Homo sapiens: one gene and its partners. The protein of the gene in region 2 purifies or fractionates together with the protein of the main gene of each other region. This does not show direct contact. Each region holds a gene or a part of one and is shown on either strand. Other genes may lie near its edges. The genes, in order: PRKAR2A, PRKACB and VAPA.

Region 1 (3,748 bases), on a different chromosome or scaffold from region 2:
CTGCACTCCAGCCTGGGCAACAGAGCAAGACTCCATCTCAAAAACAAACCCAAACAAACAAAATGGCCAGGTGCAGTGCCTCACGCCTGTAATCCCAGAACTTTGGGAGGCTAAGGCGGGCAGATCCCTAGGTCAGGAGTTCGAGACCATCCTGGCCAACATGGCAAAACCCCGTCTCTACTGAAAATACAAAAATTAACTGGGCATGGTGGCAGGTGCCTATAATCCCAGCTACACAGGAGGCTGATGCAGGAGAATTGCTTGAACCTGGGAGGTGGAGGTTGCAGTGAGCTGAGATCGTGCCATTGCACTCCACCTTGGGCGACAAAAGGAAGACTCCATCTAAAAGAAAAAAAAAAAGCCAGGTGCGGTGGCTCACGCCTGTAATCCCAGCACTTTGGGAGGCTGAGGCGGGTGGATCACGAGGTCAAGAGATTGAGACCATCCTGGCCAACATGGAGAAACCCCATCTCTACTAAAAATAGAAAAAATTTGCTGGGTGTGGTGGTGCACGCCTGTAGTACCAGCTACTTGGGAGGCTGAGACAGGAGAATCGCTTGAACCTGGGAGGCAGAGCTTGCAGTGAGCAGAGGTCATGCCATTGCACTCCAGCCTGGGCGACAGAGTGAGACTCCTCTCAAAAAAAAATAGGGGCCTGGCAGAACGGTCGCCCTCATTCCTTCCAGATGCCTTTTGAATGCTCTGCTGGATGGGTGGTTGGCTGAGCCGTGGGGCATCTGAGAACAAGTCAGTAGACCTTCTCCAAGAGTATGCAATAAGGACTGAGCAGGAAAAAAGTTGGAGACTGCCTGTCCCCTCACAAAGTTGATGGTCTAACATTCTTCTCAGGGTCAAGAAACTTGTCCAGGGAGACACTGCTGTTTATAATCACAGGCCTGCTTAGCCTAGAACCTGGGCTGGCCTCTTCATCAGTGGGGATGAGGGCTCCTTGCTCCCAGCTGCTCAGCTCCCAGCAGCATTGAGCTCCTGGGTGTGTGCCAAGCCTGTATGGGAGGTGATAGGGAGGATTTTAATTAATACTGAGTAATTACCAGGCGGTGTTTAAGCATCCCAAATGCCCTCAGGTTCCCAAACCTACAGCTACTCTCTTCCTGGCTAGGCCTGTAAGGAGAGGGGGACTCTGCTCTATGCCCAGTGGGCCTTTGGTTAGCACGTAGGCTGTAGACTGGACATCCCAGGAAGGTCTCCACCTTTTTCAATACCCTTCCAGTTTGGTAGGAGGAGGAGGGCAATTTGGGAAATAGTCTGGCCTCTACAGTTCACCTATACCATCTTCCCAGGGGCAAAGGATAACAATGCCTGTGGTCTGCTCAACTTCATCAAGCAGTGTTGACCTAGGGCCCAGTGTAGAATGTGGGGAGAGGAATGGGCAGACCTAGATCTGGGGACCCTGGTGAAAGTGCTCCAGGAGGAACAGGCACAGAGGTCTTTGCTGCTTTTGGCCTTATTTCCCTTTCTCACTGTACACATTTGGCTGAGTGAACTCTTTCAAATTTATTTTTCTGTCTGTGGCTCTCAAATTATGATCTCATTCAAACGCCTACTTCCTACAAGGCCTTACCCGTTTGACATCTCAGAGACCTGACAGACTCCTGAGTTATTCCACCATTCCACCTGGCAGCCAAGGTGGTCTTGACTCCACCAGGCCTTTGCTCTTGTTGTATGTTCAGATGGCTTTCCTCCAGATCTTCCCCTGGGCGGGTCCTGCTCAGGCCTCGGGGCTAGCTTGAATGTCACGCCGGAAAGTGAGCCCTCTCTTGCCCTTCATCACAGCAGAATCACACTGATGTGCTCGTATGCTTCTGCTTCTCGCTGTGTCTCTGGTGCTTAGTAAGTGCTGGCCAAAAAGAGGCTCTTGGCATCAGCTGAAAGAATAATTTAAAGGTCTTCAGGACCAGGCGAGAGGCACTAATCGGTCCCCTTCATGGGTAGACCGTTCATTACCTAATTCCCTGGATTCCCTCCGTGAGCTGGCATCAGGAACACTCCACTGTCTCGACCCCCCGACAGCCCGAGGGGGCGGGTCATCTAGTGGCGCAAGCGCACTGAGGGCCGGTGCTAAGCGGGGACGCGCACGCCCGCGGTGGCGTGCGTCACAACCAGGACGCCTGCCCCGCCCGTCCAGCTCGCCTGCCCGTCGGTCCCCGCGGCGGCGGCGGCTGCCCAGTGACAGCGGCGGCGGTGCCAGGTCGGCCGTGGTAGCGTAGGGTTGCGCGGCCCGGAAACGCAGAGCCGGCCAAAGAGCGGCGCGACGTGAGCCGGGGCCGTGCGCGAAGAGACCTCGCGGGCGCGGAGCGAAAGGCCGGCGTGAGTGAGCGCGGAGACAGTGGCCGCCGGCGGCCCAACCCGTCTATCCCTTCGGCCGCCGCCGGCATGAGCCACATCCAGATCCCGCCGGGGCTCACGGAGCTGCTGCAGGGCTACACGGTGGAGGTGCTGCGACAGCAGCCGCCTGACCTCGTCGAATTCGCAGTGGAGTACTTCACCCGCCTGCGCGAGGCCCGCGCCCCAGCCTCAGTCCTGCCCGCCGCCACCCCACGCCAGAGCCTGGGCCACCCCCCGCCAGAACCCGGCCCGGACCGTGTCGCCGACGCCAAAGGGGACAGCGAGTCGGAGGAGGACGAGGACTTGGAAGGTAGGCTGTGGGCGGGGCCCTGGGGAGTGGTGCAGGAGGTCTCCAGAGGTCTAGAGGGGTGGCAGGGAGCCAGGTGTCGCGCCGCAGCCAAGCCGACCGCAGGCTGGGATTGGGAGCTCTGTAGCCGCGTTTCTAGCGTTTCCCTGAGACACCGGCGTGAGCCCGCGTGCGCCACTTCCAAATTGAGCTCCGCGATCCTGCGAGCCCTAGAGCGCACCGAGTGATTTGTCAGATCCAGCCTTGAAGGAAACGTGCGCGCTGTCGGCCCTGCTAGAGGATCCCTCGCCTTTGCTTAAGACCCTTCACCAGTTTTGGCTTCGAAGACAACAGCGTTCTCATCCAGTGACTTGTGTTTAATTGATAGGACAGTAAGTTTGTTTGGAAATAATAATTTTTTTTGAAAAGTTACTGTGAAAACTTTTAAGCATAGACAAAAGAGGAAAGGTGAGATGAATCCCTATATGCCATCACCTACATTTAACAGTTGCGTTTGTCACAAAGTTTCATCCATACCTTTTTTCTTTCTTTGCCGAAGTGTATTAAAGCAAATCTCTCAGGTCATTTCACCTCTGCTTACTTGAGTTTGTATTTCTTCAAACATGGTCCCTGGGAATATTCCTATTTTTAAAAACTTGGCCAAAACGATTGAATCAAATTTGGTGAGAGTAAATAATTATCTTGCCGGCCGGGGCAGTGGGCCCCTATAGTCTATACCAGCTACTCTGGAGGCTGAGGAGGAAATATCGCTTGAATCCAAGAGTTCGAGACCAGCCTGGGCAAAATAGACACCCTACCTCATTTTTGAAAACGAAAAACCTGGCCGGGCGTGGTGGGTCACGCCTGTAGTCCCAGCACTTTGGGAGGCCGAGGCGGGTGGATCACCTGAGGTCAGGAGTTCGAGACCAGCCTGGCCAACATGGCGAAACCCCGTCTCTACTAAAAATACAAAAATTAGCCGGGCGTGGTGGCGGGCGTCTGTAGTCCCAGCTACTTGGGAGGCTGAGGCAGGGAGAATCGCTTGAACCTGGGAGGCGGAGGTTGCAGTGAGCCAAGATCATGCCACTGCACTCCAGCCTGGGCGACAGAGCGAAC
Region 2 (3,748 bases):
CATAATATTTATACATAAAGCTACAAATTTAAGAATTTTGTCATATAGATGCTGTTGCATATTTGTTTAGATTGATAAAAATTTTATTACACAAAACAAAGTATACAGAAATGAGCTGTTACATGGCAAAATTCATTGGTCAGTGTTTTGTTAACTGTTATTCACACATAATATTTATACATAAAGCTATAAATTTAAGTTTATCTTATAGATACTGTTACATACTTGTTTAGATTGATATGAATTCCATTACACAAAGTATACACAAATGAACTGTTAAATGGCAAAATTCACTAATCAGTGTTTTCTTATTGGCCTTTTATGTAGTCCTAATTTGATTACATTATTGTTCCTATTTATTTTACTTATCAGTATTGTTTCTATTTTTTATGTTTGTCAAACAGTTGGCAGTAAATCTGAAGTAAGATTTTTTTAGATAGATTGTTTTAGATAGACCTTTTTCTTTCTTTCCTTTCCTTCCCTTCCCTCCCCTCCCCTCTGCTTCCAAAGAGAACCACGGAAATTTCTTATCCTTTAGTGTCAAAAAAACAAGTACTCAAAATTTTTGTTAAATGCCACAGGTTACTTTCTTTCCTGAAAATTGACAAGGCAAGTTTTACTTACTTTTAATCAAAAGAGATGTTTTGGCCAGGCGCGGTGGCTCACACTTGTAATCCCAGCACTTTGGGAGGCCAAGGCGGGCGTATCGCTTGAGGCCAGGAGTTTGAGACAACTCCTGACCTGGCCAACATGGAGAAACCCCATCTCTACTGAAAATACAAAAATTAGCCGGGCATGGTGGTGCGCGCCTATAATCCCAGCTACTCGGATGTCTGAGGGGCGAGAATCGCTTGAACCTAGGAGCGGAGGTCGCAGTGAGCAGAGGTCGCACCACTGCACTCCAATCTGGGAGACAGAGTGAAACAACGTTTAAAAAAAAATAGAGAGGTGTTTCTAAGTGAGATCACTAAATCAGGGGTTTAGGTAAGTAGTAGTCTTCAGTGGTAAGGTTTTAAAATTAACATGTCTCAGCCAACTAGAAGGAACTTTTTTCTCTCAATTGAAATTTCTTGCTATGGTGGATTTTATATAATTTAAATCTTGTATTTTGTTCTTTTCAAATTTTAGAATGTTTTAAAATGTACCCCTGGTAATAGACATATGTCAGCAGATTATAAGTTTGATAAGCAATACTGACATACTAAGTGTATGTAGTTCCTGTATGTATTAGGCCTAAATCAATGAATTAGAAACATTCAATTTTTTAAAGTGCTATTTCACATTGTTTTATTTATACGTGTTATAAATTTGTTTTGCAAGAGTTTTTTCATACCCATTTCATACTAGTTTTTTTTTATGAAAAGTTAGCTGCTTATAAGGATTCATAAAATCTGTATATTAGTTGATTTCCTAGAAAAAATACAACCTGTCTTTAGCATGTTGTGTTTGGAGGACAGCTTGGCCTTCAGTTGTTTGCATAGACTTGTCATACATGTTTAACTAGTTTTCTTTTTAAAGAATGTTTAGCCTACTATATATATAAAGCTTTATATTTAATGCTCTCATTAGCCTATATATTAATATTAAAACACCCAAACATAAAGCCTTTTAGGCAGATATTGCAAGTTTTTAAAATCCTCAACTCTAGCTGAAAAGTGTTTTGCTAAGAAAAGCTCAGTAATGTGCTGTTTTATATTAACAGGAAACAGAACAGCAGTAGTGGTTTGAATACCCTGCAAACAGGAAGTTTGACACATGCATAGCTCTTAGCTTCTGTGTAAGAAGTTGTGAGCTCCTTCTGGAAACATTTGCAGTTACATTAAGTAAAGTGTAAATGCACATGAATGGCAGCTTATAGAGAACCACCTTGTAACCAGTATACAGGTACAACTACAGCTCTTCAGAAATTGGAAGGTTTTGCTAGCCGGTTATTTCATAGACACTCTAAAGGTACTGCACATGATCAGAAAACAGCTCTGGAAAATGACAGCCTTCATTTCTCTGAACATACTGCCTTATGGGACAGATCAAGTAAGTTTTGTTTTTTAAATGATACATTATAACTAGCAACTAAAATGGTAATTGGAGTTTTACAATCAAACATAAAGAACCCTCTTTTGTTTGTTGTTTTCTGATTTTCACAAGGACATTTTGCAAGATGAAGTTGAAAGAATTCCATAAAAACTTGATTATAAGTTGAGCTGAATCATTCAGCTTTCATCATTGTATGGTTTTATTTTTGACTAAGTTCAATATCAGTGACAAGATTTTCTATAAAATTCTTACATCATTTCTAATGTACTTTTTTTTGTTGTTCTTACATAAAAATGAAATACTTAAGTTTCAGAAACAACCATCTGTTTACTTCTTAAAATGTCTTGTATTTATAAGCTTTAAACTTTGAAAGGGGCAACAAGACTCTTGAATTTATAATTACATTTCTATTGTGTTTGCCATGGTTTTATTTTTAAATGCATGTGAGAAAGTTATTTCAGTTTTACAAACAGGAATTTCTAAAATAAAACATAATTATTCTATCTAAATTCTTACACTTATAACATTATGGATATCAAAAACTTTATAATTATATTTTATGTTATTTATACATATGACTCAAATGCAGGAAAAGTTGGTTATGCATGAATCACATTCTTTCAGGCATGTTAAAATGTTTGAACTTGCAGCTTTGCTAAAATGGTGCTGGGGAACCATTTTTGGTGCCATACACTCTAAAAGATAAATTGCACATATAAACAATACTAGTGCCGCCATTCTACATCTCACCTTGGACCCTCCTCAAGGTATTTCTGTGACTCCAATTAGAGGAACAATAGAATTACCCTTGAAACTTTTGCCCTCTTTGGTGTGTTTGTTTGATCATCAAATAGCACTAGCGTTTGACTCTTTCTGTTTATGTATTTGGTAGCAGTTAAGGAAGAAAACTCAGCTTAACAACCACAACAGCAAAATCAAGAATGGCTTACAAAATTTACTCCTAGGTTTATACAGCACCTTGACAGTGTTATAGAAGCTTATTTGAATTAATTTTTTACTAAATCAGAAATTTTTTTACATTCTTCAAACTATTTTTGGGAGATTGAGGAAGAACATGTATTTGTGCATTTTTTCCACTTAAAAGGTTTTGGGTTATTTATAGTCTTTACTGTATAGCAAGTTGATGGATGAGGAATATGAATATATATCTTCAAGTTAATGAACTGTTGAATATTAAAATAGTGGTATAATATTAAACTTTACCATGTAACAAAAGCTTGTTAATTATTGTCCTTGCCCTATTCTTTTAAATTGCAGTCTTTTAAATCCTTTTGGAAATTATTTTTATGCATTTCAAGTATGTTTTAATTTAAAGTTAAATGAGGAATTAAGACAGAATTGAATTAATTTCTGTTTCATTAATACCTGCTCTTCATATAGTGGGTGTTTAGTAAAAGTGTCTCAAATAAATGAATGTTAGGGGTTTTTAATAATTAAAAGTTATGTTTGAACTAGACTTTCACCACTTTTTAAATGTATGGGATCTGTGATGCTTTCTAAAACATATTTTAAAATCTAGTAATGGAAAATAGTATCATGAGCCATGATTTCTATTGGATAAAATGCTGTTTTGTTTTTTTTTTATTGTGAAGTCAAAACAAATAGGATTCTTGTACACAAATAAAATTAGGAGCAAACCATGTAGCGCTGCAAATAATATGCATGATGTAAGAAATACTTAAAGAGTAACTGA
Region 3 (3,748 bases), on a different chromosome or scaffold from region 2:
GTCAGGACTCTTCATAATTCCTCAAAGGTTTTCCCCCAGCTACAACTACGTAAAAATCACACAACTTACATAAACTTGCAATAAAATACATTCACTGCACCTTAAAACCAAATCCTTACCCAACAAGTAGCTCACTTACACTTCTATTCAAAGAAATTTGTAAACGCACTAAAAAGCTTGCAATGTAGTTATGCAATATTAATCTCATAATTCCAGAATATATTTTAAATTCCTAAACCTGAAGTTTTTCCTATGGAAAACAATGTAGTTGGCTTTCTCTTGGACTCAGCCTTACACAACAATAAAGGATTTAATTTTTTCTTTTAGCACTAGAATTGCTATACACCTCACAAAAATTGTTCTCATTCAACAATTGAAATACAAGACATAGACTTCCAAAACGGGACTCACTTTACACTTAACTAAAGATAGGAAGGAACCTACTTTCTATTAGATGTTCACACTCTTTCAGTATTCCTTAAAAACAAAGAAAAAAAATAAAAATCTGTACATTTTAACTCTCTTTCCTAAAGTACACTACATATTGACAAGGAAACCGACCAAAAGCCCCTGGGATTCTTCCAGGATCACCAAGTCAGACTAAAAAACTTATCACAGGCAGTACTACAAAAACCTACAAAGTTCCAGAGCTGGGTGACACCTTATCAGCCTTCTCAGGATCTGTCGGAAACCGCAAACGTAAAAGCAAAAAAGTCACACGCACTGAAGGTTTCTCAGCAGAGGAGCTCAACTAAAGGGCTAAATAAAAGCACGCGGGTGGCACACTGAAATGTCGTAGAAGGCAGGAAGCCCCGCTACTATGAACCTACAACTCTCCGTTTGCGGCTGACGCATCGCTCCTGCCCGCACGCACCTGGGTCCGTGCCAACAGCACCGGGCAGCCCTCGCCAGGCACCTCCAAGGACTCTCCACCTCCCCGGCGCGTCCTACACCTGACGGCCGAGTTCTAAACCTGGCGGAAAGGTGACAAGCGACGCCCTCCGCGGAACCCGAGGGCCGGCTGCAGCGAGCTCTCCCCGGGCCGGGGCAGGGGTCGGGGGGCGGCTCTCACTCCCAAGGGGTCCCGCGCCGTGCCCTAGCCTCCCCGCGCCGCTGACAGCCGGGAGCGGGCGACAGACGCAGCTTGCGCCACCTCCAGAGCCCACTCCCCGCCGCAGCCCAGAGCGCACGCCCTCGGGTGCCCAGCCGCCCACGCCCCGCCGAAGCACGCCGTCGGCCTCTGGGGCCAAGGACGCGGGCCCAGGCGGACCGCGGCGCGGGCGGGACCGGACGCCCAGGAGGCGCCCCCGCGGGACCGCAAGATGGCGGCGGCGGCGGCGCCAGGGCCGGGCTCCCCTCCGCCTCGCCCCGGCCGGCGCGCGCACCGCAGCGAGGGCGGGCGGGAGGGGATGAAGCGGGCCGGAGCAAGGGGCAGGCCGGCCGAGGTGGCGGCAAGAAAGCAGCCGGGAAAGGGAAGGCGCCGGGGCGTGGGGGAGGGGGCGCTCCCTCGGGCCAGGGCCGCGGACGTGCCCTCCGCGCCCCCCCGCCGACAGCCAGCGGTCCGCGCGCCCCACCCCACCCGGGGGTGTCCCCGTTCTGCCTACCTTTGAATTTGAGGTCTGTGGGCGGATCGAGGACCAGGATCTGCTCGTGCTTCGCCATGGCCCCTGAGGCGGACGCCATCGGAGAGACAGCGCAGAGCGGGGGCGCGCCCGCGGCGGCGGTTTGCTGACTGGGGGCGGGGGACGACGGCGGCGACGGCTCGGCCGAGCTCTAGGACGAGGCCAGGCTCGCGGCTCCCGAGCCCTAACGCCTGCCGCTGTGTCACCGGTTCGGTGGGCCACCCGCTGGGTCAGCAGCTCCGGGTCCCACAACTGACTCAACCCCACACCAGCCGCCACGGCCACGCGCACTTGCGAGCCTCGGCGACCCACGTGACGGCCTCTGCGTGCCTACGTGCGCGCCCCCGGCCGGGAGCTTCTAGCGCTTGTCCCGCCCTCCAGGCCGGCCTAGCGCGGCGCGGGGCTGCTGCGCCTGCGCGCTCGCGGCTTGCCGCGGCCCGGAGCGCAGCCCAGCTGTCAAGGGAACGGGTGTGGAAGGAGGCGGGGCAAAGGTCCGCGGGACCGACGCGATGCGCAGCGCAGGGCTGGAAGCGCAGTCCTCTGTCACCTTGAGCTCCGAGTACGGAACTAGAGAAACTGCTCTGGCAGCGCATCACACTCTTCCAAGTGGGAATGCCCAGTGGAAGGGACAAGTAGTAGTAGGGAAGCGCCCACTCACTACAACTCCCGGCATGCCCCCTGCGGGGCGGGGCCTTCGCCGAGGGCCTGGCCCTTTGCGGCCCTGCGCGGTGCTTGCTGGGAACTGTAGTAACGGCTGTTTGAGGGTGGAAAGGAGAGCTAGGTCTGTTGGAGGCAATGGGGTGGGGTTCGCGGACGCTAATTTTGGCTCTCAGAGCGCGTCTAGTTTGCGCTAAAAAAGAAAAAACTTGAAGACTGAAACGAGGCCCCAATGTTAGAAATATATTAATAAAATCTGCCCTGTGGAGAACAGGCGTGGGGGGATGTGTCCGTTTGCTCTAATTCTATCCAGTCCTCTGTTGGCAGGGCTGCATTCCCCGTGGTATCCAATTCAGCCTCTCCTGCTTCCTGAGTTCTCTCCAGTGATGCAAAATCAGATAAGGAAACACACCTCGTCTAGGAAGCAAGGGGAAATATGACAAAGCACACAGAAACTAGAAATAAAAGTCAAAAATCTACACCATCGAACCCAAATAATCTTCTTCAGTTTTAATGATGGACCCAAACCAAAACAGTTCTCACGTTCACATGTTAGAAACTAACTCCATCTGCATCACTTACGATAGGCTGTAGTAAACTGAACCAAATAAGAAAAATCCCAGCAGCAAACTTGCTGACAAAACTTTAGCCGATTGCCAGGGTAGTCCGGTACAGGAACGTCAAATGAAACCAATGTGCTGTAAATAAACCTTTATTGTATTTTGTGATACGGTTTGAATTTAAATCCCTAGGTAGCGCCACGAAACAAAAGACATATTGATGCTACTGCCATGGAGCAGCACAGTTTGTCTAGAAAATAAACGAGACGAAACAGCAGTCTAGAAGTAGGCACCAAATCCAAGTTTTCATGTGCGATCCAGGTATTAGGGTCCATCCAGGAACAGCCTGCTGGAATTGCTAGCCTGGCATTCACAGAAGATTGTGCCACCCACGAGGAATGTGTTTTCAGCCCTGAAATTCCTGGGAGTGAGAGGTGAAGCCAGCTGGATTTCTGGGTTGGGTGGGGACTTGGAGAACTTTTCTTACAAGAGGATTGTAAAATGCACCAATCAGCACTCTGTAGCTAGCTAGAGTTTTGTAAAATGCACCAATCAGTGCTCTGTAAAAACGCACCTATCAGCACTCTGTAGGTAGCTAGAGGTTTGTAAAATGGACCAATCAGCACTCTGTAAAATGGACCAATCAGCAGGGCATGGGCAGGGACAAATAAGCCAATAAAAACTGGCCACCCCAGCCTGCAGGGGCAGCCTGCTTGGGTCCTTTTCCACATTGTGGAAGCTTTGTTCTTTTGCTCTTCACAATAAATCTTGCTGCTGCTCAGTCTTTGGGTTTGTGCCATCATTTCTTTCTTTCTTTTTTTTTTTTTTTTTTTTTGAGAGGGAGTCTCGCTCTGTCCCCCAGGCTAGAGTGCAGTGGCGTGATCTCAGCTCACTGCAAGCTCCGCCTCC

What was found.
Region 1: the proteins of PRKACB (region 2) and PRKAR2A purify together in Homo sapiens (affinity purification with mass spectrometry; 7 studies listed by BioGRID and IntAct, with this or other methods). This does not show direct contact.
Region 3: the proteins of PRKACB (region 2) and VAPA purify together in Homo sapiens (affinity purification with mass spectrometry; 5 studies listed by BioGRID and IntAct, with this or other methods). This does not show direct contact.

The regions. Positions count from the first base shown.
Region 1 is NC_000003.12:48,846,243-48,849,990, reverse strand, and holds the start of PRKAR2A (cAMP-dependent protein kinase type II-alpha regulatory subunit), read left to right. Parts: upstream 1-2,116; 5' UTR 2,117-2,394; coding exon 2,395-2,656; intron 2,657-3,748. UniProt on the Homo sapiens protein: Regulatory subunit of the cAMP-dependent protein kinases involved in cAMP signaling in cells. Type II regulatory chains mediate membrane association by binding to anchoring proteins, including the MAP2 kinase.
Region 2 is NC_000001.11:84,142,518-84,146,265, forward strand, and holds the start of PRKACB (cAMP-dependent protein kinase catalytic subunit beta), read left to right. Parts: upstream 1-1,753; 5' UTR 1,754-1,844; coding exon 1,845-2,031; intron 2,032-2,758; exon of another isoform or gene 2,759-2,801; intron 2,802-3,748. UniProt on the Homo sapiens protein: Mediates cAMP-dependent signaling triggered by receptor binding to GPCRs.
Region 3 is NC_000018.10:9,912,192-9,915,939, reverse strand, and holds the start of VAPA (vesicle-associated membrane protein-associated protein A), read right to left. Parts: upstream 1,925-3,748; 5' UTR 1,684-1,924; coding exon 1,605-1,683; intron 1,337-1,604; exon of another isoform or gene 875-1,336; intron 1-874. UniProt on the Homo sapiens protein: Endoplasmic reticulum (ER)-anchored protein that mediates the formation of contact sites between the ER and endosomes via interaction with FFAT motif-containing proteins such as STARD3 or WDR44.